Linked DNA regions of Homo sapiens: region 1 is linked to region 2. A link means that fine-mapping ties the variant in region 2 to the plasma level of a protein whose gene starts in the linked region. Region 2 holds a variant in brackets. A gene starts in the other region. All regions are shown on their reverse strands.

The links. PIP is the chance, under the fine-mapping model, that this variant and not a neighbour inherited with it causes the effect. The UK Biobank Pharma Proteomics Project read protein levels with antibody pairs (Olink). The fine-mapping took linkage between variants from a reference panel, not from the people measured, so its PIPs are less certain.
Region 1: it holds the start of STAU1, and the variant in region 2 is fine-mapped to the plasma level of the STAU1 protein (UK Biobank, PIP above 0.99).

Annotation. Positions count from the first base shown.
Region 1 is chr20:49,180,091-49,195,740 of GRCh38, reverse strand. It overlaps STAU1 (staufen double-stranded RNA binding protein 1), which reads left to right and starts at 7,407. Exons shown (of 14, transcript NM_017453.4): 1 at 7,407-7,625. RefSeq lists silencers at 7,134-7,803, 8,034-8,193 and enhancers at 8,594-8,663, 14,750-15,278.
Region 2 is chr14:106,641,725-106,657,374 of GRCh38, reverse strand. It overlaps IGH, the pseudogene IGHV3-62, the pseudogene IGHVII-62-1, the pseudogene IGHV3-63 and the pseudogene GOLGA4P3. Among named protein-coding and RNA genes, the nearest start is that of LINC00221, 170 kb to the right of the region's middle. The variant C/T (reference allele first, on the strand shown) is at 6,172.

The DNA of each region.
Region 1 (15,650 bases), not on the chromosome of region 2:
GTAGAGACGGGGTTTTTCCATGTTGGTCAGGCTGGTATCAAATTCCCAGCCTCAGGTGATCTGCCCACCTTGGGCTCCCAAAGTGTTGGGATTACAGGCGTGAGCCACGGCGCCCAGCCTACATTGTTATTTCTAAGAACCATTTGTTTTTCCTTTCCCATGAACTGTCTGTTGCTATCTTTTTTTTTTTTTTTTTTTTTTTTTTGAGACGGAGTCTTGCTCTGTCGCCCAGGCTGGAGTGCAGTGGCACGATCTCGGCTCACAAAGCTCCGCCTCCCGGGTTCACGCCATTCTCTTGCCTCAGCCTCCCGAGTAGCTGGGACTACAGGCACCTGCCACCACACCTGGCTAATTTTTTTGTATTTTTAGTGGAGACGGGGTTTCACCGTGTTAGCCAGGATGGTCTTCATGTCTTGACTTCGTGATCCGCCTGCCTCGGCCTCCCAAAGTGCTGGGATTACAGGCGTGAGCCACAGCGCCCAGCCTGTTGCTATCTTTTAATCATTTTTCATTGGGTTGTTAATCATTCTGCTATTCAAAGTAATTCCTTACATGTCATGAAATTTGTGAAATCATCCTCTCTGAGATGCAAATTTTTTCCAGTTTATCATTTGTCTTTGTATTTCCTCTTATCACATTTTTTATTTTCCTGAGTCAATGAATTGATCTTTTCCTTTAAGGATTCCGAATTTTGTGTTATAGTTAAAAGAGTCTTCTCCACTTCAGAGTGATACAAACATTCTTGCAGGAATTCTTCTGGTACTTTTATGGTTTCCCGTTATTATTATTTTTTTTTTTACTTTGACACAGGGTTTCACTGTTGCCCAGGCTGGAGTGCAGTGGTGAGATCATAGCTCATTACAAGCTGACAGGGTGGCTCATGCCTGTAATTCCAACACTTTGGGAGGCTGAGGTGGGTGGATCACTTGAGGTCAGGAGTTGGAGACCAGCCTGGCCAACAGAGTGAAACCCCATCTCTGCTGAAAATGCAAAAATAAGCCAGGTGTAGTGGTGTGCGCCTGTAATCCCAGCTACTTGGGCTGCCGAGGCACGAGGAATTGCTTGAACCCAGGAGGTGGAGGTTGCAGTGAGTTGAGATCGTGCCACTGCACTGCAGTCTGGGCGACAGAGCGAGACTCTGTCTCAAAATAATAATAGTAATAATAATAGTTCTCTGCAGCCTCGAACTCCTGGGCTCAAGCAATCCTCCCACCTTGGCCTCCCACAGTGCTGGGATTATAGACATGGGTGACCATGCCTGGCCAGTTTCCTTTCTTTTTTCTTTTTCTTTTCTTTTTTTTTTTTTTTTTTGAGACGGAGTTTCGCTCTTGTTGCCCTGGCTAGAGTGCAATGGCACGATTTTGGCTCACTGCAACCTCTGCCTCCCAGGTTCAAGTGATTCTCCTGCCTCAGCCTCCTGAGTAGCTGGGATTACAGGCGTGCGCCACCATGCCCAGCTAATTTTGTATTTTTAGTAGAGACGGGGTTTCTCCATGTTTCTCAGGCTGGTCTCTCAAGTCCCAATCTCAGGTGATCTGCCCGCCCTGGCCTCTCAAAGTGCTGGGATTACAGGTGGGAGCCACAGTGCCCAGCCCAGTTTCCTTTCTTCTATTTAAATATTTGATCAATTTGGTATGTTCCCTGGTATGTAATATGAAGTACACATTTAATTCCCCCTGCCCCAGAAGCTACCTTGTTGTCTCAAAGTATTTATAAAATGAAATCTATCTTTTCCTCACCAATTTGAAATACCACTTTTTTTTTTTTCTTTTTTCTGAGATGGAGTCTCTGTTGCCCACAGTGGAGTGCATTGTGGCGATCTCTGCTCACTGCAAGCTCCGCCTCCCGGGTTCACGCCATTCTCCTGACTCAGCCTCCTGAGTAGCTGGGACTACAGCCACCCGCCACCACGCCTGGCTAAGTTTTTGGATTTTTTAGTAGAGACGTTGTTTCACTGTGTTCGCCAGGATGGTCTTGATCTCCTGACCTCGTGATCCGCCTGCCTTGGCCTCCCAAAGTGCTGGGATTACAGGGCGTGAGCCACCGCGCCCGGCCCGTTTTTTTGAGACGGATTCTTGCGCTGTTGCCAGGCCCAGGCTGGAGTTGCAGTGGTATGATATTGGCTCAGTGCAACCTCCGCCTCCCGCGTTCAAGCGATTATCCTGCCTCAACCTCCTGAGTAGCTGGGACTACAGGTGGGCACCATCACGCCCAGCTACTTTTTGTATTTTTAGTAGAGATGGGGTTTCACCATGTTTGCCAGGATGGTCTCTATCTCTTGACCTTGTGATCCCCTGGCATTGGCCTCCCAAAGAACTCGGATTACAGGTGTGAGCTACCGGCCCGGCCTTTTTTTTTTCTTTAGAGACAGAGTCTTGCTCTGTTGGCCAGGCTGCAGTGCAGTGGTGTGATCTCGGCTCACTGCAACCTCCACTTCCTGGGTTCAAGCGATTCTCGTGCCTCAGCCTCCCCAGTAGCTGGGATTACAGGCGCCTGCCACCATGCCCAGCTAATTTTTCTATTTTTAGTAACGATGGGATCTCACCATGTTGGCCGGGCTGATCTCAAACTCCTGACCTCAAGTGATCCGCCCACCTTGGCCTCCCAAAGTGCTGGGATTACAGGCGTGAGTCACTGCACCCAGCCTTGAAATACCACTTTTACTGAGTATTAAATTCATACATGTGTTTGTGTCTATCTGGAAATATCTCTTCCATTGATTGTGGAACTAATCAGGCACTAGCATCTAACTATTTTAATTGGTAATGCTTTACCAATAGTATGTTTGCTATTTGGTCAGGAGTTTTCAGAAAGTTCTTGGTTATTTTTCTTATTAATTTTTCCATAAGACTTTAGACATGGCTCATAGAGATCCAAAACAAAATCCTGTTTGTTATTTTTCTTGGGATCTCATTCAATGTCTTTTTAAATTTTAATGTATTTTTTGAGTCAGGGTCTCACTCCAAGCCTGGAGTGCAGTGGTGCAATCACAGCTCACTGCAGCCTCAACCTCCTGGGCTCACGCGATTCTCCCACTTCAGCCTCCCAAGTAGCTGGGGCCACAGGCACATGCCACCACACCCGGCTAATTATTTTTGTACTTTTTTTGTAGAGTTGGGATTTTGCCACGTTGGCCAGGCTGTCCTTCAATGTCTTGATCAACTGATATCTTAATGATCTGGATGGAACCTTCCTAGCCAATACCATAACCTGTATTTCTCTTTGTTCAAGTCTTTTTCTGTATTCTTTTGCAGAATTAAACATTTTTTCTTCACACAGATTGTGCATATTTCTTGTAAAGTTTATTTCTAGGTATTTTTATTTTTCCACTGCTTTGTAAATGGGATCTTCCATTATATCTTTTTTCTCTTGTTTTTTCTTTTTTTTTTTTTTTTGAGATGGAGTCTCGCTCTGTTTCCCAGGCTGCAGTGCAGTGACTCGATCTCAGCTCACTGCAAGCTCTGCCTCCTGGGTTCACGCCATTCTCCTGCCTCAGCCTCCCGAGTAGCTGGGACTACAGGTGCCTGCCACCACGCCCAGCTAATTTTTTGTATTTTTAGTAGAGATGGGGTTTCACCATGTTAGCCAGGATGGTCTCGATCTCCTGACCTCATGATCTGCCCTCCTCGGCCTCCCAAAGTGCTGGGATTACAGGCGTGAACCACCGTGCCCAGCCTCATTTTGTTTTTTGAGATGGAGTCTCGCTCTCTTGCCTAGGCTGGAATACAGTGGCGTGATCTCAGCTCACTGAAACCTCTGCCTCCCAGGTTCAAGTGATTCTCCTGCCTCACATGCCCGAGTACCTGGGACTAAAGTTGCATACCACCACGGCTGGCTAATTTCTGTATGTTTAGTAGCGATGGGGTTTCACCATGTTGGCCAGGCTGGTCTCGAACTCCTGACCTCAAGAGATCCGCCTGCCTTGGCCTCCCAAAGTGCTGGGATTACAGGTGTAAGCCACTGCGCCCGGCCCCATTATATTTTTATGTCTTCTAATTGTTGCTCTTAGATTCTGATATATCCCTAGGAGTGCAGGCTACCTCAAATAAGCTTGGGAATTACTTATTTAGGCCAGCAAGTAGTTCTCAACCTTGTTCTCCTGTGCTACACATACCACAGGTGACCCTGACATACACCAATCAACCCTACAGGTGTTCCCTGTTTCTTAGGGACTTGCGCAGAGATAAGCAAGGCTGTAATTTTTCAGCAGTCTACGGAAATTTATCATGTACTATTGTGTCCCTGGCACTGTGTTATGGGCCAGGGACCATCATGACTACTAAGACAGGCTGAGTCTCTGCTGTCATGGAAGTTGATCACTTAGTTCTAGCCTAATAGATATACTCAACAGATAATTGAAAATTATAAGGGTGCAAAGTTCTACTAAGAGGCTATGAGAGTGGAACAGATAATTCATCAGAGGTTAACATTCACACTTGTAATCCCAGCACCTTGGGAGGCCGAGGCGGGTGGATCACCTGAGGCCAGGAGTTCGAGACCAGCCTGGCCAACATGGCGAAACCCCGTCTGTACTAAAAACACAAAAATTACAGGGCATGGTGGCAAGCGCCTGTAGTCTCAGCTACTCGGGAGGCTGAGGCAGGAGAATTGCTTGAGCCCGGGAGGTGGAGGTTGCAGTGAGCCGAGATCGCGCCACTGCACTTTAGCCTGGGTGACTGAGGGAGACTCTGTCTCAAAAAAAAAAAATAATTAAAAATAAAAATAAATGTCTCACAGGGCTTTTATGAGCTTTGCATCAGAGAGCCGAGATCACACCATTGCACTTCAGCTTGGGCAACAGAGTGAGATTCTGTCTCAAAAAAAAAAAAAAAAAATTCAGCATCTCACAGGGCTTTTATGAGTTTTGCATGTTCCCATTCCTTAGTACAGATGCACATAATTTATCTTGTGAGAAGGAACACACATAATTTATCGTAACATACTTAATGCTCACAGTTTCTTGTGAACCAAGAACACACAGCTTCCATCTTTTTCTCAAGGTAAAGAAAAATGATTCCTTAATTACTTAGCAAGACTCAAGAGGTCTTCAGGACCTTGGAAGAGAACTTGACTGATAGTTTCTAGGTACAAACAGAAGAAAACAAATCTAGGTGACCTACTCCTGGTCAGGTATGGTGGCCCACACCTGGAATAATCCCCCCAGTACTTTGGAAGATTGAGGCAAGAGGATTGCTTGAGCCTAGAATTTGAGACCAGCCTGGTCAACTTAGTAACTTAGTAAGACCCTGGGCAACTTAGTAAAACCCTGTCTCTATAAAAAATTAAAAAATTAGCTGGGAGTGGTGGCACATGCCTGTGGTCCCAGCTACTCAGGAGGCTGAGGTAGGAGGATTTCTTGAGCTCAGGAGGTTGAGGCTGCAGTTAGCTGTGCTCATGCCACTGCACTCTAGTTAGGTGACAGAGCGAGACCCTGTCTCAAGAAAAAAACAAAAAAGATGCGGAAGGAGGAAAGAGGGAAGAAAATTGAGACTGGAAGTCATAGACCCACCACTTTTGTCCCTATGGGTGATAGCAAAATCACCTTTGACGAGATTGTCTGATTGTGCGCAGCTTTGGGTTTAGGGAGACCTCTCTGCATCTGCTCCTTTACCCAAGGAGGTATGGGATCCACACTGCTTGGAAGTTAGAAAGAAAAGATCACTTTTAGCAGAGGGCTGGACAATATCTGAATGTTGCTTACTACTGTCTTGGATGGGCACTAAAGGGACGGTGAAAGTCCTTTGACTATTTTTGGTGTTCTGAAATTCAGTGTCATTGCACTTCACAAGAAGCAATGTAAGGAGGCAAGTGTCCTCCCAGGCTTCGCTAAGGCTCCAAAGCCTTGTTTGGAGGGGCCTCTTCAGACACAGCAGCTCGTATTTTGAATTTATATTCCGTTGGCAAGAGAGATTGAGCAATTATTAGATTGAGAGACATTTAAGAAAGAGAGAATTATTTTTAAATAGTGGGGCGGCAGTCCCAGAGTGAGCGGGAGAGAGAAGCTCTGTGCACCTGCAGTTCCTTCATTCATTCTCAGTTTCTTGGACCTCTCACAACGCGAGCATAATTTTCGCTGAGTGTGCAGAAGTTCAAGATTCTTTTTTTTTTTTTTTTTTTTTTTGAGACAGAGTCTCACTCTGTTGCCCAGGTTGGAGTGCAATGGCGTGATCTCGGCTCACTGCAACCTCCGTCTCCCGGGTTCAAGAGATTCTCCTGCCTCAGCCTCCCAAGTAGCTGTGATTACAGGCGCCCACCACTGCATCCGGCTAGTAGAGACGGGGTTTCACCATGTTAGTCAGGCTGGTCTCGAACTCCTGACCTCAGGTGATCCGCCCACCTCGGCCTCCCAAAGTGCCGGGATTACAGGCGTGAGCCACTGCGCCTGGCCAAGATTCTTTACTGGCCACCCTCTCTCCAACCTCCCATACAATACAGCTGCTAAAAACCACTTAGTTTATCTAGGTCTGGGTGAAATAAATAGTAATCTGGCACTTCTCGTCTTTTTTTTTTTTTTTTTTTTTTTTTTTTTTTTTTTTTTTGAGACCAGTGTCTCTTTGTCGCCAAGGCTGGAGTGCAGCGGCGCGATCTCAGCTCACTGCAATCTCCGCCTCCCGGGTTCAAGCGATTCTCCTGCCTCAGCCTCCCGAGTAGCTGTTTACCTACAGGCGCCCGCCACCACGCCCGGCTAATTTTTTGTATTTTCAGTAGAGACGGGGGTTTCACCGTGGTAGCCAGGATGGTCTCGATCTCTTGACCTAGTGATCCGCCCGCCTCGGCCTCCCAAAGTGCCGGGATTAGAGGCCTGAGCCAACGCGCCCGGGCCATTGTCTTTTATCTCACTACACATTTTTCAATTTTATTTATTGTGTATTTTACTTACACAAGAATGTAAGCTCCACGAGGGCAGGGATTTTTGTCAGTTCACCACTACATTCTTAGCTCTTGGAGCAATGCCTTGCATATGGCAAGCATTTAATGAACATTTACAGATGGAGGAAGAAACAACTGCAGGAAGGAGAGAAAGGAAGGCCAGAGGCAGGACAAGAGGAAGAAGCGACAGCAAGGAAGGAAAAAGGAAGTGGAGGAGGAAAGAAGGTAGGCTGGGTTCTCCCAGACCCGCTTCGAGTCCAGCAGGCAGCGCGAAACTCCCACCAGAACTACAACTCCCGGCAGGCCCCGGGACTCAGGACGGGCCGCTGCGGTCCAGGCGGGACAGGGCGCTCCTCCCGCTGGGCCCCCGGCGTGCCTTGCGAGCGCAGGCTCCGCCGCAGTGCCAGCCGGAACTTGTGGTTCGGACCGTGGGTGGGGGTGGGGCCGGGGCCGGGCCTGGAGGCGGGCGGGGGCCGGGGGCGGGCGCCTGCCCCTCCCCCGTCACTTCCTGCCGGGCTGCGGGCGCCTGAGCGGCTCTTCAGCGTTTGCGCCGGCGGCTGCCGCGTCTCTCTCGGCTCCCGCTTCCTTTGACCGCCTCCCCCCCCCGGCCCGGCGGCGCCCGCCTCCTCCACGGCCACTCCGCCTCTTCCCTCCCTTCGTCCCTTCTTCCTCTCCCTTTTTTCCTTCTTCCTTCCCCTCCTCGCCGCCACCGCCCAGGACCGCCGGCCGGGGGACGAGCTCGGAGCAGCAGCCAGGTGAGGCGGCCGGGCCGGGCCGGGCCTGGTGGGGCCCTCGCGGGCGCCGCCGCGGTGGGGAGGTGGGCGGCGGGTGGGGCCTAGGCCTCGGCGGGCCCGCGCACCCCTCCGCCTTCTCCCGGGCCTCTCTCTAGCCCGCGGGGCCTTCCCGGAGGAGGCGGGTCCTCTTGCGTTCCCTCGCCTCGGGGCGCCCTGAGGCCTGGCCCCGGGCGCCCCCATCCCCTCCAGCCCTCACCGGTGCCACAAACAGGTGCTGCGGCCGCCTTTCCTCGTCCCGCATGGCGCGCGCGGGGATGCCGAAGTTATTCCCGGGGCTGGGGCGCAGGCGGGGGGGGGGGGGGGTCCCTGCTTCAGGTCCCCGAGGGCTGGAGCCTCTCAGTGTCGCCGGCCCAGGTCTGTAGCTTAGTGGTTAAGAGCACGGCCCAGGTGTCCAAAACGGGTGCCGAACCCGGCTCTGCCCCGTTAGGCAAGACACTTAAAAAGTCTTTGTGTCTTGGTTGGAAAAGGGGCTGCTAATACCGTCCCTGCCTCTTAAGGTTCAGTGAAATGGGGCGTGTAAAGCGCTTATCAGAGTGCCAGACCCACAGCGTGTCCCAGTAAACCGTCTGCATAATTTATTAGCGTGATATGAAGGTATAATTTAATGGGCAGAGTGGATAGAAGTTGACCTACCTATCCGTTTGGGTTTCTTAGAGGCTGCAGTGTTCCGCGTGCCCATGTCCAGAGCCAGGGCATTGTTTTCAGTTGTTAACATCTGAAAGGGGCGTACGCTTAATTGGGACACTGTAGTTGACAGTCTGTAAACGATGGATGCTGTTTCTTTCCATCTCCGCTTAGGCAACTGCAGGATATTCACCATCTCCCGCAGGATGAGCAACCTGTCCATTTCTCCCCGCCCCGCCATCATCCAGCTTCTTCTTGTCATTCCATTTCTGGGAAAGTTGCTGGCAGAAGCTTCCCTTGAGTTGAGCAAACCTATCTAGAGCACTTGCTGTGTGTTGGGCTCTGAAGGGGGGTGTACGGAGATGGAAAAATTTGTCTGTCTTGTCTTGCTCTACACCTCGATAAGTTTTTTTTCACGGAAGCTTTGCTTATATTCACCCCTCCCTGTTGGCTGACTTTCCTTTTAAGCCCTTGCCCCGCCTCCGTGTTGCAGTATTGCTTGTGTGGAAGTTTTCTTCTGTTCCGCGAAGATACGTGCTTCAGTCTGTTCTGCCACTGTTCTTCGGCTGTGTGGAAGTTTTTAAGGTCACACTTCTCTTCTGCTTGTAGCTTTCATTGTTAAGAGCGTGGTGGAGTTAAATCAGGTTCCCGGTTGATTTTGGCGTTTCAGGAATCCGTGCTTACCAAGTGTAAATTGCATTGCTACTTGTTGAGGTAAAAACTAAAAATACAGTTGGAGTGTAGAGGGAGCAGTTTCGGTTATCCTGGTGACAGGTGGGATTTTTAGAACAGCAACTTTACTAAAACATACTGGGTTTTTAAAAATTCTGTACTTAGTTTTATAGGTGTACTCTAAGGAAATGCAACTTATGGGTGTTCAATTTTATATGAGTAAGGAGTGTGTGTTTACCTGAGTGATCCTCCTGTATCTTAGGATTGTTTTAGGCATTAAATTTCCTTAGTGAACTGAAACTATTTTGATTTATACCCATCTCTTAACACACATGCGGCAAAGTGGCCTCCTTGTTTTTGACATTTTCCTAGAATTTTCTGACAGTCTTACCATTGTTTGTAATTTAAAATGTTTGTTTGAATTTTTTTTTTTTTTTGAGACAGTCTCACGCTGTCGCCCAGGCTGGAGTGCAGTGGCGCGATTTCGGCTCATTTCAACCTCTGCCACCCTGGTTCAAAAGATTCTCCCGTCTCAGCCTCCCGAGTAGCTGGGATTACAGACGCCCGCCACCGCGCCGTGTTAATTTTTGTAGTTTTCGTAGAGACGGGGTTTTGCCATGTTGGCCAGACTGGTCTCGAACTCCTAACCTCGTGATCCACCCTCCTAGGCCTCCATAAGCAGGTTAGGCGCGGTGGCTCACGCCTGTAATCCCAGAACTTTTGGGAGGCCGAGGCGGGTGGATCACGAGGTCAGGAGATGGAGACTATCTCTTGAGCCTGGTGTGGTGGCGGGCGCCTGCAGTCCCAGCTACTCCCGAGGCTGAGACAGGAGAATCGCTTGAACCCGGGAGGTGGAGGTTGCCTGGGCGACAGAGAGAGACTCTCTCCAAAAAAACAAAACAAAAAAAACACATAAGCAAACAACTATACAAGCAGTATAAAGCATGTCTAATACTGCCATATCACAATGGCATATTTCAATAGGGAAATGGTATTTTAAATACCATTTTTTAAAAACCTTTTATTCTGGAAAACATGCGAAACTCGAATAGTATGGAGAACCCCATGTGTTAGTCACTCACTTAGCTTTGACAATTATTAACTCATAGCCAAGGTCGGTTTTGTTTCATGTTGTATCCCCCCACACAAACTAGATTATTTTGAAACAAATCTTAAACATTGTGTCACAACATTAGCGATTTTGACTTTTACCAGATTGCCCCAGATTAAGGTCACAAAATTTACTTTTAGTAGAATAATAGTTCTCATTTTTGTTTGTTGGGCTTCCCTTCTCTGTTTATACATGATTTCTGTACAGCAGAAAAGAAGAAGAAAATTAACTCTTGATCCAATGCCTTCAGCTCCTCAAAATCAAAATACAACCTTGCTGCTTTATTGTGTACAAAAGCAAAAATTCTTGAGCTATTAATGACTATAATTGAAAAGCGAACAAATACAGATTTCCCCAGTCCTGTTTTGGCAGAGACCTGCCTTTTAACCCACTTTAATAGAGATAACTTTGTGTCAAAGTTAAACTACAGTTAATAATTCATAATGAAAACTTAAAATGTTTCTTTACAGTAGTTGTGTAAAGATACTGCTGTTACCTTAGGTTAAGAATTAAGCAAAAGATAATCTTCTAACATAGAATTGTTTTCCAAAGTGCCCCCGTCTGCCCTATTTCCAAATAACAAATTTAGCAAATATGAATGAAACCTTAATTTTTGTGAATAGTATGAAATCACAGCATAAGTGTTCACGTTTTTCTTTCTTGTGTCTAAAGGATCTCTCTTACAATGGAAGTTGACAGGAATATTATAAATATTATAAATGTCTTTGTTGCATAACTTTCAAATTTCTGGTCGTGAATAGTTTTCAGCTTTTAGGTCTGTTATTTGAGTTTTGTAGGTGTACTTTGAGCTTGATCAGGTACAGTGGAAATGTTACATGTTATGTTTTAGTTATGACTACCTGGAAGATGGGGAAAGATACACCTCTTAAAATTGATTTAGGAAAGAAACGCCAATTTAGTATCTGGGAAAGGACACAACACATTTTTAAAAATGTGTAGTGCTTCCCATTAAGCTTAACGTAAAACTTTTAAGCATTGAGAATTGTTACCATAAATATAGTTTCTTGAGAATAAGTTGCTCTCTTTTAGGTTTCAGCCAGAAAGTCCATGTATATACAGATTACAGCAGGTCCTTGAATAATGTTGTTTCAAGATAATGTTGAGAAAAAAAACTGTCTGTGGAGTTTACACGTTCTCCCTATCCCTGCATGGGTTTTCTCTGGGTACTCTTGATTTCCTCCCACATCCCAAAGCTGTGCACGTGAGGTTCACTGGTGTGTGGAGCTGTGTGTGTAAGTGTGAGTGCTTTCTGCAGTGGATGTCCTGTCCAGGACTGGTTCCGGCCTTGCACCCTAAGCTGCTGAGATAGGCTCCAGCCACCCCAACCCTGAACTGGAATAAGTGGTAAAAAAAAAAATTTTTTTTTTTGAGATGGAGTTTAGCTCTTGTCACCCAGGCTGCAGTGCAATGGTGCAGTCTCGGCTTACTGCAACCCCATGCCTGTAATCCCAGCACTTTTGGAGGCTGAGGTGGGCAGATCACCTGAGGTCAGGAGTTGGAGACCAGCCTGGCCAGCATGGCGAAACCCTGTCTCTACTAAAAATAAAAAAAATTAGCCGGGCTGGGTGGCGGGCACCTGTAATCCCAGCTACTCAGGAGGCTGAGGCAGGAGAGTTGCTTGAACCTGGGAAGCAGAGGTTGCAGTGAGCGGTTATCGTGCCATTGCACTCCAGCCGGGGCAACAAGAGCAAAAGTACTTCTCAAAAAAAAAAAAAAGGCATGTATACTTCACATTTATTTCAGTGTTTAATATTCGAAGTGTTTGGTCTTTATTTAAAAGTTTGGTGATATTTTTCTGATGAGAAATATGCCCTAGAACCTAACTCTTGTTTGTATCAATAAGCGTGTGTTAGTCGGAAGTCTCAGTTTCCAAGAACCTACCCCTTATGTTAAGAGAGGATTTACTGTATTTTAAGTTTAGAAATGGCCATGACTCATGGAACTCTCCTCCATCCCCATTCTAAAGTCCAGATCATTGATATCATTCTGGGTGTTATCAAAATGGATACTGCTTCATCCAGTCTCTCTCCCCAATACCACAAGGTAGTCTCAGTTTGTGGGGCAACTTTCTTTGAGCCTTTTTACTGGATTGAGTAAGAGTGTAATTCAGTATAAAGATGAAACTTTCATGAAAAGGGTATCTTTTTGTGGGATTCCACAAGTCAATCCCAGAGTTTGTCGCCCAGGCTGGTCTTGAACTCCTGAGCTCAAGTCATCTTCCCACCTCAGCCTCCTTAGTAGCTGGGATTATAGGCAGAGGCCTTGTTTTCATGAGCCTCTAAATTGGATCTTCTTATTTGATGTGATACCCAGTGACACAGAATTGTTCAATTTGAGGAAATATAAATTCCTCCCCTCTCAAATAAGAGCTTTGGAGTTGCTTTTCTCTCAGAATGGGATTTTAGAGCTTTCAAAAATGTTTAGAGAATTTTATGACAGATTTGTTTCACACTAGACCTATAACAGGTTATTTTACATTGACTTCTGGTGATGGAGACATTTGTGGTTGAAATGCTTCTCGTGTAATTTTCTACATGAGCTTTTCTTTAAATAAAACTTCACCAGAGTCAAGGCTGTATACCATTTGTGCTGTTCCAAAAAATATAAATTGCCAGTTATCAGTTGAACTATGAGAGGACATGTTAGTTGCTATGGTTATTTACCCCCACCATTTTATTATGAAAAATTTCAAACATATAACAAAGTTTATGAAGTTTTATTGTACATCTCTTTAGATACCATCTACTTTCTATTTTTGCCTCCCTGTTTCATGGTGCTGAACACCGTCTACTATTTTTTTTTTTTTTTTTGAGACGGAGTCTGGCTCTGTTACCCAGGCTGGAGTGCAGTGGTGTGATCTCGGCTCACTGCAAGCTCCACCTCCTGGGTTCATGCCATTCTCCTGCCTCAGCCTCTCGAGTAGCTGGGACTACAGGTGCCCGCCACCATGCCTGGCTAATTTTTTTGTGTTTTTAGTAGAGATGGGGTTTCACCGTGTTAGCTAGAATGGTCTCGATCTCCTGACCTTGTGATCCGCCCACCTCGGCCTCCCGAAGTGCTGGGATTACAGGCGTGAGCCACTGTGCCCGGCATACCTTCTGCTCTTTGTCATGAACATTTTACCATACAGTATTATGAAGCTTGAATAATGTTGGCCAAATCCATTGTTCTCACCTGCTAAGGAGATAATAGGATTATAAATATATAGCTGTGTTGATCTTATCAAATGCCACGGGATGGATGGGCTTGGATATCTGTCTTGTTGACAGCTTAATGCTCTGAACTAGAAAACCTTACTGCAGAGAAAAGTAATATTTTTAAAGTGGTAAAATGGGAATTACTGCAAATAGCTTAATTTGTTTTTTAAGTGTTTACATTCCCATACTGGTGAATAAGGTTGATGTAACAGTGATTTATGTCACCAGATAAATGGAAGTAGAGAAAAATTTCTGCAGGCTGTTAATTGCTGTATATTTTCTGGGATTACATATGTTTATTTGTTAAAGAAGTAGACTCAGGGAACTCCCTCAAAGTATATTTACTGGAAGCAAAAGTGGAAAAATCTATTTGAGAAAGTGTTTGCTTTCGATTAAAAATTAGTCTTCTGAATATCAAATCTGTAACCCATCTGGCATCTGTTTAATCTGGAATCTAATTTGGGAAAGAAGTGTGATGACTATGTGGGTTTATAACAGTAATGGAAGCAAAACTGGCCATTTTATTATGATAGAAATTTTGTGTCATGTCTCCCAGACAATAAAGGCTAAGAAAATCTATTTAAATACATTGGGGTCTTTTCCCCTGAATGAACATGATTGCTGAGGGTTAAACCTTCATTAGATTGCCTCTGCTTTTTTTTTTTTTTTTTTTTTTTTTTTTTTTGTTGAGATAGTCTTGCTCTGTTGCCCAGGCTGGAATGCAGAGGTATCATCTCGGCTCACTGCAACCTCCACCTCCTGGGTTCAAGCAATTCTCCTGCCTTAGCCTCCCGAGTAGCTGAGACTACAATTGAGCACCACCACGCCCGGCTAATTTTTTGTATTTTTAGCAGAGATGGGGTTTTGCCATGTTGCCTAGGCTGGTCTCGAACTCCTGAGCTCAGGCAATCCGCCTGCCTTAGCCTCGCAAAGTGATAGGATTACAGGCTTGAGCCACTGTTCCCGGCCTTGCCCCTATACTTGATGTAGCTACAGAACTGGTTGCTCAGTGAGTGGGTTGGTTTTAGTCAGCATATTCTCTGATCCTATTTAAAATTTTTTACAAGTGGAGTGTTGCTGTAAGTTTTATAGATGTTTATGTGTAAGGACAGGTTTAGTGAATTTGCTGGATAATAATATTTACTGCTATTGAGCTCTTACCATGTGCCAGGTTAGAATTACAGGGTGAAAGTTATTTTATGCAGAAAAGGAATTAAAAGGTCAGGTTGAATTTACCTAATAATATAAAAGTTGCAGTTCATTTAGCTCTTTCCTTGAACCAAAGAAAAGGGTTTCTTAGACCCTTTATGTTGTATTTCTAATACTCATAAACATCTTTGCAGCGTAAAGCTCATAATAATTGCTGAGGATGCTGATGCGCTTCCGAGGGGCCAGATAACTGGCTCAGAGTCCTGAGGCACCAAGTATTAGTTCTAGAGCACAGGCTGGTCTGGCTCCAAAGTCAGTGTTCTTTCCACTGAACCATGCTTTGTCTCTAAATTATGCTTAGGTGCTTTTTGTTTAGGATAATTGATTCTGCTTGTCACTGGTGGCCCTCCCCTGACTCTCCCCACCGCAGCAGCTAGGATGAATTTTGCTCATTAGAACCCTAGATCAATTTGAAAGAAAGTCTGGTTAAGTAATAGTCTTTTAGATGGACCCTTGAAATAGCTTTCCAGTTTACTTTTATTTGTTATGTCAAATTAAGCTAAAACTTAAAGCTGATCCACAGGTTTGTGTGTGGGGAGGGGCTGTCTTATTAACCTTTGTGTTAAAGGAGGCCAGCTCCTAAATTACTGCTATCGTGTGTCATCAGGTTTGTTAAAAATTGCTGGCATGGTGGCCCACGCCTGTAATTCCGTCACTTTGGGAGGCCAAGGCAGGCGCATCACCTGAGGTCAGGAGTTCGAGACCAGCCTGGCCAACATGGTGAAACCCCATCTCTACTAAAAATACAAAAATTAGCTGGGTGTGGTGGTACGTGCCTGTAATCCCAGCTACCCCGGGGGCTGAGGCAGGAGAATGGCTTGAACCCGGGAGGTGGAGTTTGCAGTGACCTGACATCGTGCCGCTGCACTTCAGCCTGGGCAACAGAGCAAGACTCTGTATCCAGGGGGGGAAAAAAAAAAAAAGAACTGTAGTCCAGGTTGTTGCTAAAAAAAAAAATTCATTTCTTCTGAATTCTAACATTCTGCTTTAGTGGAAATGAGTTAACTAAGCTTCCAATTAACTTTATAGGATAGGTGCTGGTTGTCCTCTTTGCTTCCTAGCCCTTTCTAACATCCCTCTTGTGGCTAATACTGTTGGGAGTATTTAGTACAGCTTCCTGTTTGGAATTGAACTGCTTCCTGAACAATTTTG
Region 2 (15,650 bases):
CAGGGCTTCCTGGTGAGTCTTCTCCAGTCAGACTGAGGACAGGAACTCCAGAAAGAATCCTGACTAGAACTGAGGTATTGCTCCTCACAAGAGAACTCAAGCTGCGGGGGGTCTGTTCCTGCAGACCCCTGACCCGGTGGCGGATGAATAAAACGTACACTGACACACAGATATTCTGTTTTGCCAGTTCAGCTGAGGGTCCGAGGCAACTTACAGACTCCAAGAAGAATCCTGTAAAGAACGGCAGCAGTGGCCCTGAGCAGCTCGCACTCCAGGCGTGTATTGAGTATAGAATTAACAACAGAAGCTCTGACAACACACTTGTGGATAATTAACATGGTTAAGAGAGTAGTTCTACGAATGATTAAAGCTCAGGGACTGCGGTCTAAAGTAAATACCATTAGGGGGCAATACCCTGGTTAGTTAATGGAGGTAGGGTAACCAGACTTAACTGGGGAGGCCTCTATTGTCCCTAGTATTTACCCTATGCCTAACGCTCTAAGGTAAGAACTGGCCGCCTTCAGCCTGTTCAATTATTACAAGCTATGTAACCTTTCGGCCTTCTAAAAAGGTATATGACTATTCCCTATAACTTTCCTTAATATTCCCCTTTAATATTTCCGCCACCATCCTGAGTGAATCCCAGCAAGAACAGTCTTTGGGGATTCTGATTACAGAAAAAAGAGAGGCTGGGCCAGGGTCAGTGTCATGTAGAACCTCACAGGTTTCTCGTAGGACCCTTCTCCTGACACTGAAGAATGCAAATCAGAATCAATACTGATCTGGAGCTTCTTTTCCTAATTCATTTACTGTCTTTTTTAGATGTTGTTCTCATTTTTCCATTTGCTTTTCCTGCTTTCCGAAAAAGGAAGATGTTTTTGCTGTGGTCAAAATTCCAGACCTCAAGCCCTTTTCTTGGCGCTCAGGTGGGTCTCAGGCTGTGGCTGCTGCAGTCACGCAGGAGAGTCTGGTGGGACTTTCTTCACTCTTCGTCACTCAGGACCCTCCACTGTGTTGCATGGAGACTCATCTGGAAATGCAAGTTGCCAGTGGGAACTGAAGGGACAAGCTTGTCTGGTTAATGTGGGATGTGGATGTGTTTCTAATCCTGTTCTGAAAAACCGTCACACAGTAACGTTCTTCACTAGTGGAGAAGGAAGTGGGTGTGAACGTTGTCAGAATAAAAATGGAGCCACGTGTGTTATAATCTTTACAGGCGAAGCTGGAAGAGGTCATGAATAGAGGGTTCTCATGCACACATCCCTGATAACAAGAATTACCCTAAAAATACTCTGCACAACCACAATCTTGAACAAAGGCTACCACAACAATAAGAGAATTAATACTGAGGGGATATCTGCCCTGCAACTCCCTGTTCAGCCTTAAACTGATTCTACCCTTGTTATTGATTCTTCTACCCCAGGATAATTGTCTCAAAATAGCTCAGGTAATCTTCTCATTTATCCTTCAGACACTTGTCTTTCTTTACCAACCTAAATGTGACCATGGATAATCCCATTGCAATGCTCATTTTCAAATAAATACGATTTGATTTTGGAGAATCTCTTTCTCTCTGATGTTTAGGTTTGACAAGCTGCAGAGGGACACACCACTTTCCTGTGAGATGTAGGGGATGACAGTTTTGGGGGATGGCTGGAAACGTGCAGTATCCTTAGGGTCAGCCATCAGTAAATGCAGGCTGGAAATCTTAGAAAGATCTCAAGCTGCTTAATCACCACGGAGTTTTACCTTCTCCAGATCTGTTCTGATGGAATCAGGGCCAAGTTTGTTATTGATGATAATCTACCTAATATTGAGTCAACTGATCACAGTTTTAATAACATCTATTTAAAAATTCACACCTGGATTAGTGTTTGATCAAATAACTACAAAGTATTGCCCAACCAAGCATACCATCAGGCAGACTGTTACCCACAGAGAAAAACATTGAACATGAGTTTGAGGTTCTCACATTGTTAAAGGTGTAAAACCGATTATGTTTAAATTATGCTATTTTTATTATTGTTATTGAGTTGTAGATGTTTCATTTACATTTTGGATATTAACGCTTTTTCAGATTCATGGCATATTATCCAATTCTGTGAGTTGGAATTATTTTGTTACTTTGCGGAATCTTTTTTTAAATCTAGTCCCACTTGTCCAATTCTGTGTTTTTTTATTTGTTTGAATGTAAAATCCAGAAAAAGATTGCTAATTTTTTGAGGGTTGGGAGTTTTACAATTGCACGTGTTTCATTTAAGTATTTAATGCATTTAGAATTAATTTTTTTGTTTATTCTAACCTAAAATTCTTAATTCTTTGCATGTAAATATCCAATTTTCATAACACGCTCTTTGGAAGACACTATAATTTAGCAATTATATATTGATGGTTCTCACGCTGAAAGTCAGCTGGCCATCAATATGTGGGTTTATATCTAAGCTCTCTGTATGAATTTATGCGAATGCCATTCTGATTTATTACTGTATGTTTCTAATAAATGTTGAGGCCTGGAAGTGTAATACCTCAAGCTTTATTCTTGCCTTGTTACAGATATTAGACCAAAATATTCTAAAATTTTACTATTGAGTATAATAATAGCTGTGGCTTTTCTTAATTGGTTTCATTATGTACAAGTTGTTTTCTTGTCTTCCTACTTTGTTCAGAGTTTTTATAATGAAATCCTGAATTTTTTTCAAGTGTTTTCTGTGTCTGATGAAATGTTACTGAGATATTTTTTCTTTAGTTTTTTAATTAATCAACTGAATTGATTGATTTGAGAATGTCAAATCATCTGTGCATCTCAGAATAAATTTGAGTTGATCATGGTGTATGGTCTTCTATAAAATCTTTAGAATTTATTTTACTATTGTTGGGGGGTTAATTTATGTCTACTAATGATATTGGTCTATGATTTTCTTTTATTGTGGTGCCTTTGTCTATTACTGGTAGTACTCTAACGGTAGCCTCATAGAAAGAGTTTGGAAGGTGTGTTGCAGACTACCTTTAAAATAGATTTTATCAGTGGAGAAACGGTGATAGTTTTTTTCTTCAGTTTTCTGTTGGGAAGAGTTTTGTTTGTTTGTTTGTTTTTTGTTTTTTTGTTTTGTTTTGTTTGTTTTTTGAGACAGAATCTCGCTCTGTTGCCCAGGCTGGAGTGCAGTGGCAGAATCTCGGCTCACTGCAAGCTCCGCCTCCTGGGTTCATGCCATTCTCCTGCCTCAGCCCCCAAGTAGCTGGGACTACAGGCGCCTGCCACCACGCCTGGCTAACTTTTTGTATTTTTAGTAGAGATGGGGTTTCACCGTGTTAGCCAGAATGGTCTCGATCTCCTGACCTCGTGATCCGCCCGCCTCGGCCTCCCAAGGGAAGAGTTTTATGTTGTTTAAAAGATATTCTGAATAACTTAACCTGCTTAATGGGCTTACATAATATTCCTTTCTTCCATTCTTTTTAAAGAACTGCTTACCTTTCCTAATTATTTTTAGGGTGATTTTTTTCATAAAGATTGTGCAATACATTTTGAGGTGAGACTTAGTGGATTTTTTCTAATGAATTAGAAATAATAAATCACTTAATTGACTATTGTATTAAGGTTGATTTGTTGAATATTTGCTAAAGGCCAGTTCTTTAAGCTGTGCCATGTACTAAATCCCTAACCGACTATTTTATTCAGGTTGGTTTGTTGAATATTTGTTAGAGACCAGTTCTTTACACTATGGCATGTAATAAATTCCAAATGGCAGTACGTCATTGTTTACTTAGCTTTTGTGCTTATATTTTTCAGAGGAAAAAAAATACTGTAAATTGTAAATACCCAATACCTAACAGTATTGTATGCAAATCTGTGACTGTTGGCAGTGTCATCTCTGAGAAACAGATAAAGTTTATTTACTATATATAAAAAAAGAGTTTGGAAGGTGGACTCCTCACCAATTTTTGAAAGAGTTAGAGAAGCATTAGCATTAATTCTTTAAATGTTAAGACTAATTTTATGATGTAACATATAACCTATCATGGAGAATGTTCAATGGGTGCTTGAGAAGGATGTGTATTACATGGCTCTTGGTTGGAAGGTTCTGTAAATGTCTTTCAGGTAAATTTGTTCAATACTGTTGTTCAAGTTCAGAGGCTTATTAAGAATTTTCTTTCTGGATTTGCTATACATTATTCTAAGTGAGGTATTAAGGTTTTCCCTTATTTTTATATAGTTTTCTATTTCTCTCTATATATATATCTTAAAGTTTGCTTAATGCATTTATATTTGTATTTGTACTGTGTAAAAAGTAAAATAAAATAATAATTGCTTAGTGAGTTTCATGGCACAATCACGTTATGAATAATCATATTTTCCCAAATGCTGTCATTGCCACTAACTCCTCCAGATACATGGTATATTATCCAATTCTGTGAGTTGGAATTATTTCGTTGCTTTGCAGAATCTTTTTTTGTTAATCTAGTTCCACTTGTTCAATTATGCTCCTCCGGGAGTCTCACATCTGCTCTGGGCACTGCCTTCTTCTCAGGCATCCCACACTGGAGCTTGCTATAGAGGAGGAGGCATGAAAACAGGGCCCTCCCTCTACTGGTGAAAACAAGCCCAGACCTGGCCCTGCAGCTCTGGGAGAAGAGCCACAGCACTGGGATTCCCAGGGGTTTCCATGTGGTAATCAGGGCTGAACACAGAGCTCACTATGGGGTTTGAGCTAACCAGAATTTTTCTTGTTGCTATTTTAAAAGGTGACTCATAGAGAAATAGAGTGAGTGAGAGTGAGTGGATATAAGTGAGAAAAACAGTAGATGTGTTTGGCAGTTTCTGACCAGGACGTTTGTGTATTTTCAGGTGTTCAGTGTGAGGTGGAGCTGATAGAGTCCATAGAGGGCCTGAGACAACTTGGGAAGTTCCTGAGACTCTCCTGTGTAGCCTCTGGATTCACCTTCAGTAGCTACTGAATGAGCTGGGTCAATGAGACTCTAGGGAAGGGGCTGGAGGGAGTAATAGATGTAAAATATGATGGAAGTCAGATATACCATGCAGACTCTGTGAAGGGCAGATTCACCATCTCCAAAGACAATGCTAAGAACTCACCGTATCTGCAAACGAACAGTCTGAGAGCTGAGGACATGACCATGCATGGCTGTACATAAGGTTCCAAGTGAGGAAACATCGGTGTGAGTCCAGACACAAAATTTCCTGCAGAAAGAAGAAAGGATTCTGGGCCGAAGGGGACACTCAGCACTCACAAAACAGGTGGAGCCCCAGGGCAGGTACAGAAAAGCAGTCAAGGGCTGCTGTCCTTCAGGATCTGTGCTTTCCTCTGCATGTAGCAGTTCCCCTCGAATCCTCTGCACTTTTATGTTTCTGTGCCCACCATGAGGTCCCTGGATTACAAAACTTTAATTTAAAAGAGGAAACATTCTTATATGTCCCAAAAACAAAAGTAAGTATTAGAGGCACAAAAGTGCACAGGCGGCCAGGTGAGGCTGTAGACACTGCCACCCCGCAATGCCAGTCTCACAACTAGCACTGGAGAGTAGTGGGCATTCAGTGGAGCTTCCTACCTATCCTGTGGTCCGAGCTAAGTCCAGCAAGGCCATTGGTGCCTTCCAGAGCACAGTAGTCCATCAGGAATCTCCCATGTGTCCCAGCAGCAGCCTTGCCTCAGTATCTCCACTGTGCACAGCCATTGTCTGGGAGGAGCTCCCAGGATGAGTGTCTTTGGCACACACCAGGTGGCGGGTGTTAGAGTGCAGTACAGCAGCTGGCTGCCTGGTCTATTGGGCTCCCTGATGTTGGAGGGATTTGAGGTGCATTCTCAGGCCCAGCACCCTCTTTGTGAATTTTTATATAAAAACCCTGATTTTACTTCATTTTCTCAGATGACATAGATAACTAAAAACAGAATCTGCAAAGAAATTGTAATTTTCAACTTTACCCCAAATTCATTGTTTCTTAATTCTGTGCAAGATCCAAACATATTTTTGCCTTCCACATGAGAAATTGTTCTGTTTAAACTGAAATCATTTTTTCTCATATTCTTTCTTTTTGCCCAAGTACAGAGATCTTGTTGAAAATAAGTTGGGTTCTTTCCACACACTAACCCTCACCTCCCCTAGAGAAAGAGCAGAGATTGTCCTCACTCTGAGTCTAGGGGAGGAGCTGTTCCTGTA[C/T]AATTCAGAGCCTGCAGAGACCCCCAGGTGCAGCTTCAGTGAGTCAGACATTTCTCCATGTGGGCGACCTCCAGTGCCTGTGACTGCTTCTCAGGCCTAATTGTGGGTTAAGAATTAGGACACTCTTTAAGTTATCACATCTGAATCCTATTCTGAAAATCACCATAAAGAGAGATAGTTCAATGGCTATTCTCCTGACATAAGTTTCTCTTTATTACTTGGTTCCAAGTATGGAGAAACATGTGACCCTATATTTGTCTGAATCCAACATCAGAATCCACTGCATTACTCTGGGATACTCACGGATCGAACACAGGTGAGCTCTTTATTCTCACAGAAATGTATGTAGTTGGGAATTTCAACATATTGTCCAGAACGTGTGCCTGCCAACAACTGTGTTTCTCGGTGCACTCTTGGCCTGGTGAAGCCCTCACAGACCCTCTCCCTCATGTGTGTCATCTCTGCATTCTCCATCACAACCAGTGCTTCCTCCTGGAGCTGCATCCATCAGCCCCTCTCTGGGAGGGAATGGAGTGGATTGGGTGCATAGGTCATGAAGGGAGCACACATTACTCCCCTTTCCTCAAGAGTCCAGTCACCATCCCCAGATCCATGTCCAAAAACAGTTCTTCCTACAGCTGAGCTACATGAGCAACAATCACATAGCCATATATTTTTAAGCAAAAGACACAGTGAGGGAATCACAGTGTGAACTCACACCAAAACCTCCCTGTGGGGATGCATAGGACAGAAGGGGTTACTCCGGAGCCCAGGGGGCTCTCAGGACACCAAGGGGCACTCAAGACCATTGTAGAGGCACGCAGGTAGCCGGGGGCTCTCAGGAACCATGGAGGAAAATCAGGACACCAAAGGGTGCTCGGTACAGCGAGGGGCTCAGGACAATTGTGGGGATTCAGAAAGAACAGGTTCAAGGCTCAGCTTCAGGGCAGGTGCAGCTGGTGTGAAAAGGGGCTGGATGAGGCGTTTTGTGTCACCATCATGTTTCACCACCAGACACCCTCCACTACATCTGTTCTAATGCATGTGTTTGTATGATTAGAAAATGATATTGATATAAATATATAACCATAGCTAGGTGTGTCTTTTTCTGCCTTCCGTCCTCCCTTCTTCTCTCTCTCTCACACAGAAATTTACATACACCCACCCCACAACACACATAAATCTATAACTTTTATTACCTGATGTATTCAATAAACCTGATTAATGTGTTTTGCAGCTTCATTGTTTATGCTGTTGTAGCAATAAAAACCATCTGTTTCCCAGCTGTGTACTTCTCTAAGCTGAGTAGCATCTTTGTTCATAATACCCAGAATGAAAAACAACCCAAATGTCAATCATCAGCTTAACTGGTAAACACATTGTGGAAAAGTCATTCATTGACATACTACCCACTACTACCATCAGCTAATGTTGGCTATGCTCAAAAGCATGGTTAAATTCACAAGTACTTCAGATGAGTAAAATGAGCCCAAGTGATAAAAGTGCATACATAGGATACAACTTTCATAAGTTCTATAGAACAAAAAGTAATCTAAAGTTGCAAAAAAAAAATCAGTAGTTCACTGTGAATATTGTAGGAGAAGGGATGGTCTAGGAAGGAGGAATTATGGAACAAGATAAAATGTTGAGGGAATTGACTTGTTATCTATGTTGATAGTGATAATGTCTATGACAATATTTGCAAAATTGAACACTTCATGTGGAGATTATTGTTTTTAGTTTAGCCCCATTAAAGATAGTATTAATTAGAACAGGTATAAATTGGTATCAAAGGAATTAAAGATAAATAAAATACATGAAAAGTCAGAGAATCCTGAATATACACATGAATGAGCACTGGACATCTCTGTATTTTTAGAGAAGCACTAGAATACAGCAAAATAATGGCATAATTTTACATCACTAAGAAAGTTTATCAAACCCACCAGGCATGTTGTATTAGTTCATTTTCACACTGGTATAAAAAACTACTTGAGACTGGGTAGTTTACAAGGAAAAGAGGTATAGTTGGCTCACAGTTCTGCATGGCTGGGGAGGCCACAGGAAACTTACAATCATGGTGGAAGGTGAAGAGGAAGCAAGGCACGTCTCACAGCCCAGCAGGAGAGAGATAGAGGAGGGGAAGTGACACATACTTTTAAACCATCAGCGGTTGTTAGAACTCACTCACTATCATGAGAACAACATGGGGAAACTGCCCCCATGATCCAATCACCTCTCACCTGGTCCCTCCCTTGACATGTGGGGATTAGAATTTGAGATGATATTTAGGTGGGGCACAAAACCAATCTATATCACATGTCCAGTTCTGTCCTGGAGTTGTTTCAGGGATCCAGTGTGTCCTGTTGATAGAAACAGTGACACCAAGTTCATATTATCAGTTGTAGTTGACACCATGCAAAGCCAAGAGATCTCAAGTGAGATTTAGTGTGTATGTTGTGTCTAATGAAGTCACACACTCAGAGCAAGTGAATAGGGAAAAGTTCATTATCTACACTGTAGAGGTGTCTGCTGAGTGCAGGGCAGGTCTCCCAGGAAAATCTAAAATGGCTTGAAAGAAAACCAAAGGAGACTGGCTCAGGGTTTTTATAATGGTTTAGTGGTGGGGGCAAAGTGAAGCTTCCCACTCACAGATGGGGGTTTATAGGGTTTGAAACTCCCACTGGCATCAAATGAAGAAGCTCCTGTGAGTCTGAACTAGATTCATCTTGTGTGGCAAAAAAGGAGACGATGGAGGAGTGAGCCTTAAGTAATCAGCAGTCATGCACCAAAAGATAGAGTGACAACTTATTCCATGCAGCAGGAATAAAAATAATGAATAAGAAAGAAGACAAGGGTTCAGTATGGGTGGACAACACCCAGATCTGCAGAAATGAGATGACTTTAGAAATGTAAGCAAAGAATAATGAGAAAAATAAGAAGTGGATGGAAAATTAAACAGGGGCCTGGTCTAATGTCTTGGGTAGAAGCTTTTCACAATCAAGGACTATCAGCTTATTCTGCAGGTCTTAGGTCAGCCATCTGCTTAAAAACATCAGAAACGCCAGAGGGTCTATGAGGATGCTCAGTTTAACATCTCCTATTTGAGTAGCTTTACAGTTGTGTGGAATTCTTAATTGATTATTTTTTGTTTGTTTTTAGGGACAGGCTCTCACACTGTTCCACAGCTTAAAGTACAGTTGTGTGATCATAGCTCACCTTAAATTTGAGCTCCTGACTCACACAACCTTTCCATCTTAGCTTTCTGAGTATCTACAACTAGATGGGCACACCACCCCTACCCTCCTTATTTTTTAAACATTTTTTCATAGAAATAGCATCTCTTTATGTTGCTCAGGTTGGCTTCGATTGCCTGGTCTCATAGGATTTCCCTCACTTTGCTTCTGGAAGTGGTGTGATTATAGGGAAGATCCACTGCATCTGACCTGAATTTATTCTTTAGTTGTAAAATATGAAGCCAATAATTAACTGCCTGAATGTTTTCTGCAGTGAGTTAGTTAAAAGCATCTGATAAGGTTCCTTCCTATGTGATTCACGAGCAGTATTTTCCGCTGATGTTCCTTCCAGTTTCCTTGCTGAAGATCACAGGGAATTGTGGAAAATATGTAGTAAAAAGGCAGCCTTAAACTCTTCATTGTTAGAGTGGATATCACACAGGAATCACTTTCAGTATTTTGTAACACATGCATGCAATAGAGCAAACATGATCTCTGGGGGTAAAGTCTATAAACGTATGGGCCTTTTAGCTACCAAGTCATAGGGTAATAACTGATGTACCCTGAGGACTGGACCATGATTCCATAGTGCTAGTGGAAGAACCCTTGACCAAGGGAGTTTTACATTTTATTAAAATATGTAGAGATGCCACTTTTTAAACATTCCCAGAAGGTTGTGAGTGGGATTGACTCTGTCTCGTATGAACAAAGACAATGCCCTCCATGATTAGATAATATTATAAACTAGATTGAGCTACAGTGTTTGCTGTATTGAATCACTGTATATTTTATTTTTTAGCTCCATGTTAGTTTTTTGTCTGCGTGTTAGCGTTGGCTTTAAAATGATATTAATCAGCTCTGTAGTAAGTAGAAATTCATCTGAGAGTTTCTTTCCTTGTTTTCCAGTTTGATAGGATTTCCAGAATACATAAGAACCCTCTCTGTTTGTAAAAATATTCCAGGCCAGGCCAGTGGCTCATGCCTGTAAACCCAGCACTTTGGGAGGCCGAGGTGGGGGGGATCATTTCAGGTCAGGAGTTTGAGACCAGCCTGGCCAACATGGTGAAACCTCCTTTCTACTAAAAATACAAAAATTAGCCGGGCATGGTGGTGCTTGAGGATTGCTTGAACCCTGGAGGCTGATGTTGCAGTGAGCCGAAATTGTGCCACTGCACTCCAGCCTGAGAGACACAGCGAGAGTCCATCTCAAAATAAAAGAAAACAAAACATTCCAAAGTTATGCACAATCTAGAAACATATGTACTTAATTCTCATTTTTAATTTATTAAAAAGCTCTAATAAGTTCAATGTTTTCTGCCTTCTCAGTTGATTTCACAACACATATAATAATATATCCTAAATAAAAGTTTGTTCTCTTAATACAAATTACTAGTTAATAACCCTTACTTTATTATTGAGGTATTATCCATCAGTGTTCATCAATGCTCTCAATGGGACTCTTACATAGAGAATATACAAAATATTTTCCTGATCATGACATAAAACAGATGTGAACACATTCTTAGTATTCAGCCATGTCTCCTATCATGTTATAAACCACATGCTAACTTTGACTTTATTGGAACTTGTTCTAATTTCAAACTAGTTATTTTTTATCTTCATGCAGCTGGATTATTATGTGTGGTTATTTATTCCGAGAGTGATAAAGACAACATTAACAATTTTCACTGCAGGCATGTCTAGGCAACCCCCTGTGCACAATGACCTTGGTGCATTGGAGATTCTATGGGGACTCTTCCCTACCTGCCTAGGAGAGTTCTCTGCCTTCTACCTCTATCATTTTCCTCTTTGAAGAAATACATCTAACTGTCGTTAGAATAGAGACAAAGACAAATCTTAACTGCTTCCAGCTGACGGGGGATGCTGTTTGGGGAAGATCTCTCTTGGAGGCCTGTCTAAGGGACCCCAGGAAAAGGGAGCCATTATCCCAGGCTTCAGTTGCATGAGCATTTGGAGTTTGATGGTCTGAAAACGAGAAAAGGCAAATCAGATTATTAGAAGACATGTATCCAAACCTAACAAGGTGGTCAAGGTGGTAAGGACAGTTTGAAAGAAAATTCCAAGGCTGCTGACATGCCCAGATAACTGCGGCTGTAGTTATGCCTGCTAAGGTTTGGGCGCATGAGGCTTGGCTTTTGTCAGCTCCCTGGGATTTATTTTCCCAAACAAAGAAACCTCCAGGTTAGGGGCACCCTATTCATTCCCATCACCTGGCATGATTTAAAGGATAATTGCTTAGAATTAAAATATTGATACAGATTTTTTTATATTCCCCATCGCTTTTTGTTTCTTCTGGGCTGTAGCCAGAGATCATTGATTGGCGCTCAGGAATAAGCAGTCAGTCTAAAATGCAGGCAAATACTTAAACAACTGAAGAGATTAGAATTTAAAGATGATCGTATGATATGTTTTGAAATACAATTTTTCTCTTTCCAGTTCTGGTTTTTGTCAGAATCAAGTAATTGTAAGACTGAGTTGTTTGCAAAATAAACTTTAGTCTTAAACTTGGCCTGATTATTTGCATAAAGTGCAGCAAGAATATTAATAATAATTCTGTAGGAAAAGCCTGCAAGCACCAGGAGTTTCACAGTCTAACACTATGAGCACGTGCATCCTCACGCAACTCGCTGAATATTTCCAAGCCAGCCTGTTCCTATCTTAAATGCCATCCAGTTGTATCTGCCCCAGGTACACTAATATATGGGTCCTGCTTCTCTGCAGCCTCCTCTCTCCTCAGATTTCAGGTTTTGTTTATTGTTTGTTTTCTCTCTGATATAAACTCAAATATGTTGAAGGTTTTTTTGTGTGTGGTTGTTCAGGTTTGTTGTTAATGAGGTCAGAATAAGATAATACTTTACTCTTTTTATTTATTTATTTATTTATTTTTTGAGACGGAGTCTCGCTCTGTCACCCAGGCTGGAGTGCAGTGGCCCTATCTCAGCTCACTGCAAGCTCCGCCTCCCGGGTTCACGCCATTCTCCTGCCTCAGCCTCCAGAGTAGCTGGGACTACAGGCGCCCGCCACCATGGCCGGCTAATTTTTTGTAGTTTTAGTAGAGACGGGGTTTCACCGTGTTAGCCAGGATGGTCTCGATCTCCTGACCTTGTGATCCGCCCGCCTCGGCCTCCCAAAGTGCTGGGATTACAGGCGTGAGCCCCCGCGCCCGGCCCATACTTTGCTCCGTTTTATATTCCCATGCTTTAGTAGCTGCTTTTCTCTATCAAATCCATTAACTGAGAGAACAAATCACATTTAGTTACAGGTGAACAATTAAATAGTTTGGCATATATTTATGTACTGGAACATAACGCAGCTTGAAATCAAGGCATGCCTCACTCATATAAACAACATGGCTAAATTCTCAAGTAATTCTGTTTAGTGAAAGAAACTAAGGAGTTAAGAGTAAATTTTATATGATACATTTGTAGGAATTTTAGAAGATGCCATTATTGTAAATTAACACGGAGAAGATTTGAGTTTGTCTGACAATACGCTGTTGGGAGTAATGTGGATGTGAGTTGAATTTCAGAGAAATAAAAGAAAGATTTAGGGATTAATTTAATTATTCAAAACTTGATTGAAGTGCTGAGCAAATGGCTGCAAACATAGGTCAACATTTTTCAAATCCTTCACTATAAATTTGAATTAATTACTTATTAATTACACTTGAATAAAGCAATAACGAAGAAACCAATAAAATAACATTTGACTAAAATGGAGCAATAAACAGATCGATGTTAACACAAGGAATATGACTGACTTATGAAAACATGCACATGAACCATGGTTCACTCTACGTATTTTGGTAAATTACAGAAAGTTGTCATAACAGATGGGGAATCCTGCAGACTTCACTAGGCATGGTCCACGCTGCCCTGGAGTTGTCTCAGGGGAGCTGCCTCCTCCAGTGGTTAGAGCACAGGCCCAGGTAATAGGACTAATTTTTTTAGATGTGTAATTTTAGACACACTGCACAACTGCTGTGTTCTCTGTGTAAATTATCTCCTGTAAAATGTAACATTGAAACCTGCATTAAACATATTGTATAAATATGTAAGAATAAAATAAGATTATGAGAGCTAAATATTAATCAAGGCACAAGCACATAATATAAAATTATATTTTCCTGAATGATACAATTATTCCAATCTGTCCCAGGACACTTCATCTGCCCTGAGCCCAGCCTCTCCTCAGATGTCCCACCACAGAGCTTGCTATATAGTGGGGGACATGCGAATAGGGCCCTCCCTCTGCTGATGAAAACCAGCCCAGCTGACCCTGCAGCTCTGGGAGAGGAGCCCAGCACTGGAAGTCGGCGGTGTTTCCATTCCGTGATCAGCACTGAACACAGAGGACTCACCATGGAGTTTGGGCTGAGCTGGGTTTTCCTTGTTGCTATTTTAAGAGGTGATTCATAGATAAATAGAGATGTTGAGTGGGAGTGGACATGAGTGAGAGAAACAGTGGATGTGTGTGGCAGTTTCTGACCTTGGTGTCTTTGTGTTTGCAGGTGTCCAGTGTGAGGTGCAGCTGGTGGAGTCTGGGGAAGGCTTGGTCCAGCCTGGGGGGTCCCTGAGACTCTCCTGTGCAGCCTCTGGATTCACCTTCAGTAGCTCTGCTATGCACTGGGTCCGCCAGGCTCCAAGAAAGGGTTTGTAGTGGGTCTCAGTTATTAGTACAAGTGGTGATACCGTACTCTACACAGACTCTGTGAAGGGCCGATTCACCATCTCCAGAGACAATGCCCAGAATTCACTGTATCTGCAAATGAACAGCCTGAGAGCCGACGACATGGCTGTGTATTACTGTGTGAAAGACGCAGTGAGAAGTCAGTGTGAGCCCAGACACAAACCTCCCTGCAGGGTACCTGGGACAACCAGGGAAAGCCTGGGACACTGTATACTGGGCTGTCCCCAGGGGCAAGTCCAGGTGGTATAAGCCTAGGTTTCCTGTCATGGTCTAGGGTTGCCTTTTTAGCAACTTACCCCAGAGAACTTCTCTAGATTTCCAATTCTGTAATAACATTTGATGTCGTCTCTGGCTGCAAAATGTCCCCTCAACTTTGTATCTTTTTTTTTTTTTTTGTAACAGGAGGACACATCCTCACCCTGCAGAAGCCTGAGTGTCACATTGGGGGCAGAAATGATCTGCCTTGATCTCACTGATCACTGTCCCGAGGAACATACCCCACAGGGGACCCTGATGACTCCAGTAATGTCTCTGCCTCAAAACCATTGAAGAGTCCTTCCTTCCATTAGAGTTGACCACAGCACCTGGGCTTCAGCACAAGCCATACCACAGACGTCACAAAGCAGCAGATTGACACCTGATCCAGGTGCATTTTCTCACCTTTAGAGGCTGAGAGAGGGGTGTATTCTCAAGGTCAACACACTCTTTGTGGATTTTTACAGAGAACACCTACTTTTACTTTATTTCATTTGAAGATAAATGAACAAATGTGCAGCTGCAAATGATTGTAATTTTCACATTTATTCCAATTCCAATATTTCTGAATTCTGCATGATGTCCTGGCACAGGGTTGTGTTTTCTACAGGTATTTTTCATCAAACCAAGAAAATGCATTTTCCACTTTCCGTGGTTTTTCTCCATGTGCAGAGGCCTTGAGTAGAGCACGTCTGACTGTGTTTGTTTTCACGCTGCTGATAAAGAGACCTTGAGTAGATCACGTCTGACTGTGTTTGTCTGTTTTCACGTGGCTGATAAAGACATACCAGAGACTGGGAAACTTACAACAGAAAGAGTTTTATTGGACTTACAGTTCCACGTGGCTGGAAAGGCCTCACAATCATGGTGGAAGGTGAAAGGCACATCTGACATGGCGGCAGACAAGAGAAGAGAGCTTGTGCTGGGTCTCCCCTTTTTAAAACCATCAGATCTCATGAGACTCATTCACTATTAAGAGAACAGTGCAGGAGAGACACAACCCCCATAACTCAGTCACCTCCCACTGGTCCCTCCCACAACATTGAGAATTATGGGAGCTACACATCAAAATGAGATTTGAGTGAGGACACATCCGACCCATATCATTCCACCCCAGGTTCCCTCCCAAATCTCATGTCCTCACATTTCAAAACCAATCATGCCTTCCCAACAGCTCCCCAAAGGCTAAACTCATTTCATCATTAACTCAGAAGTCCACAGTACAACATTTCATCTGAGGCAAGGCAAGTCCCTTCCCCTTATGAGCCTGTAAATTCA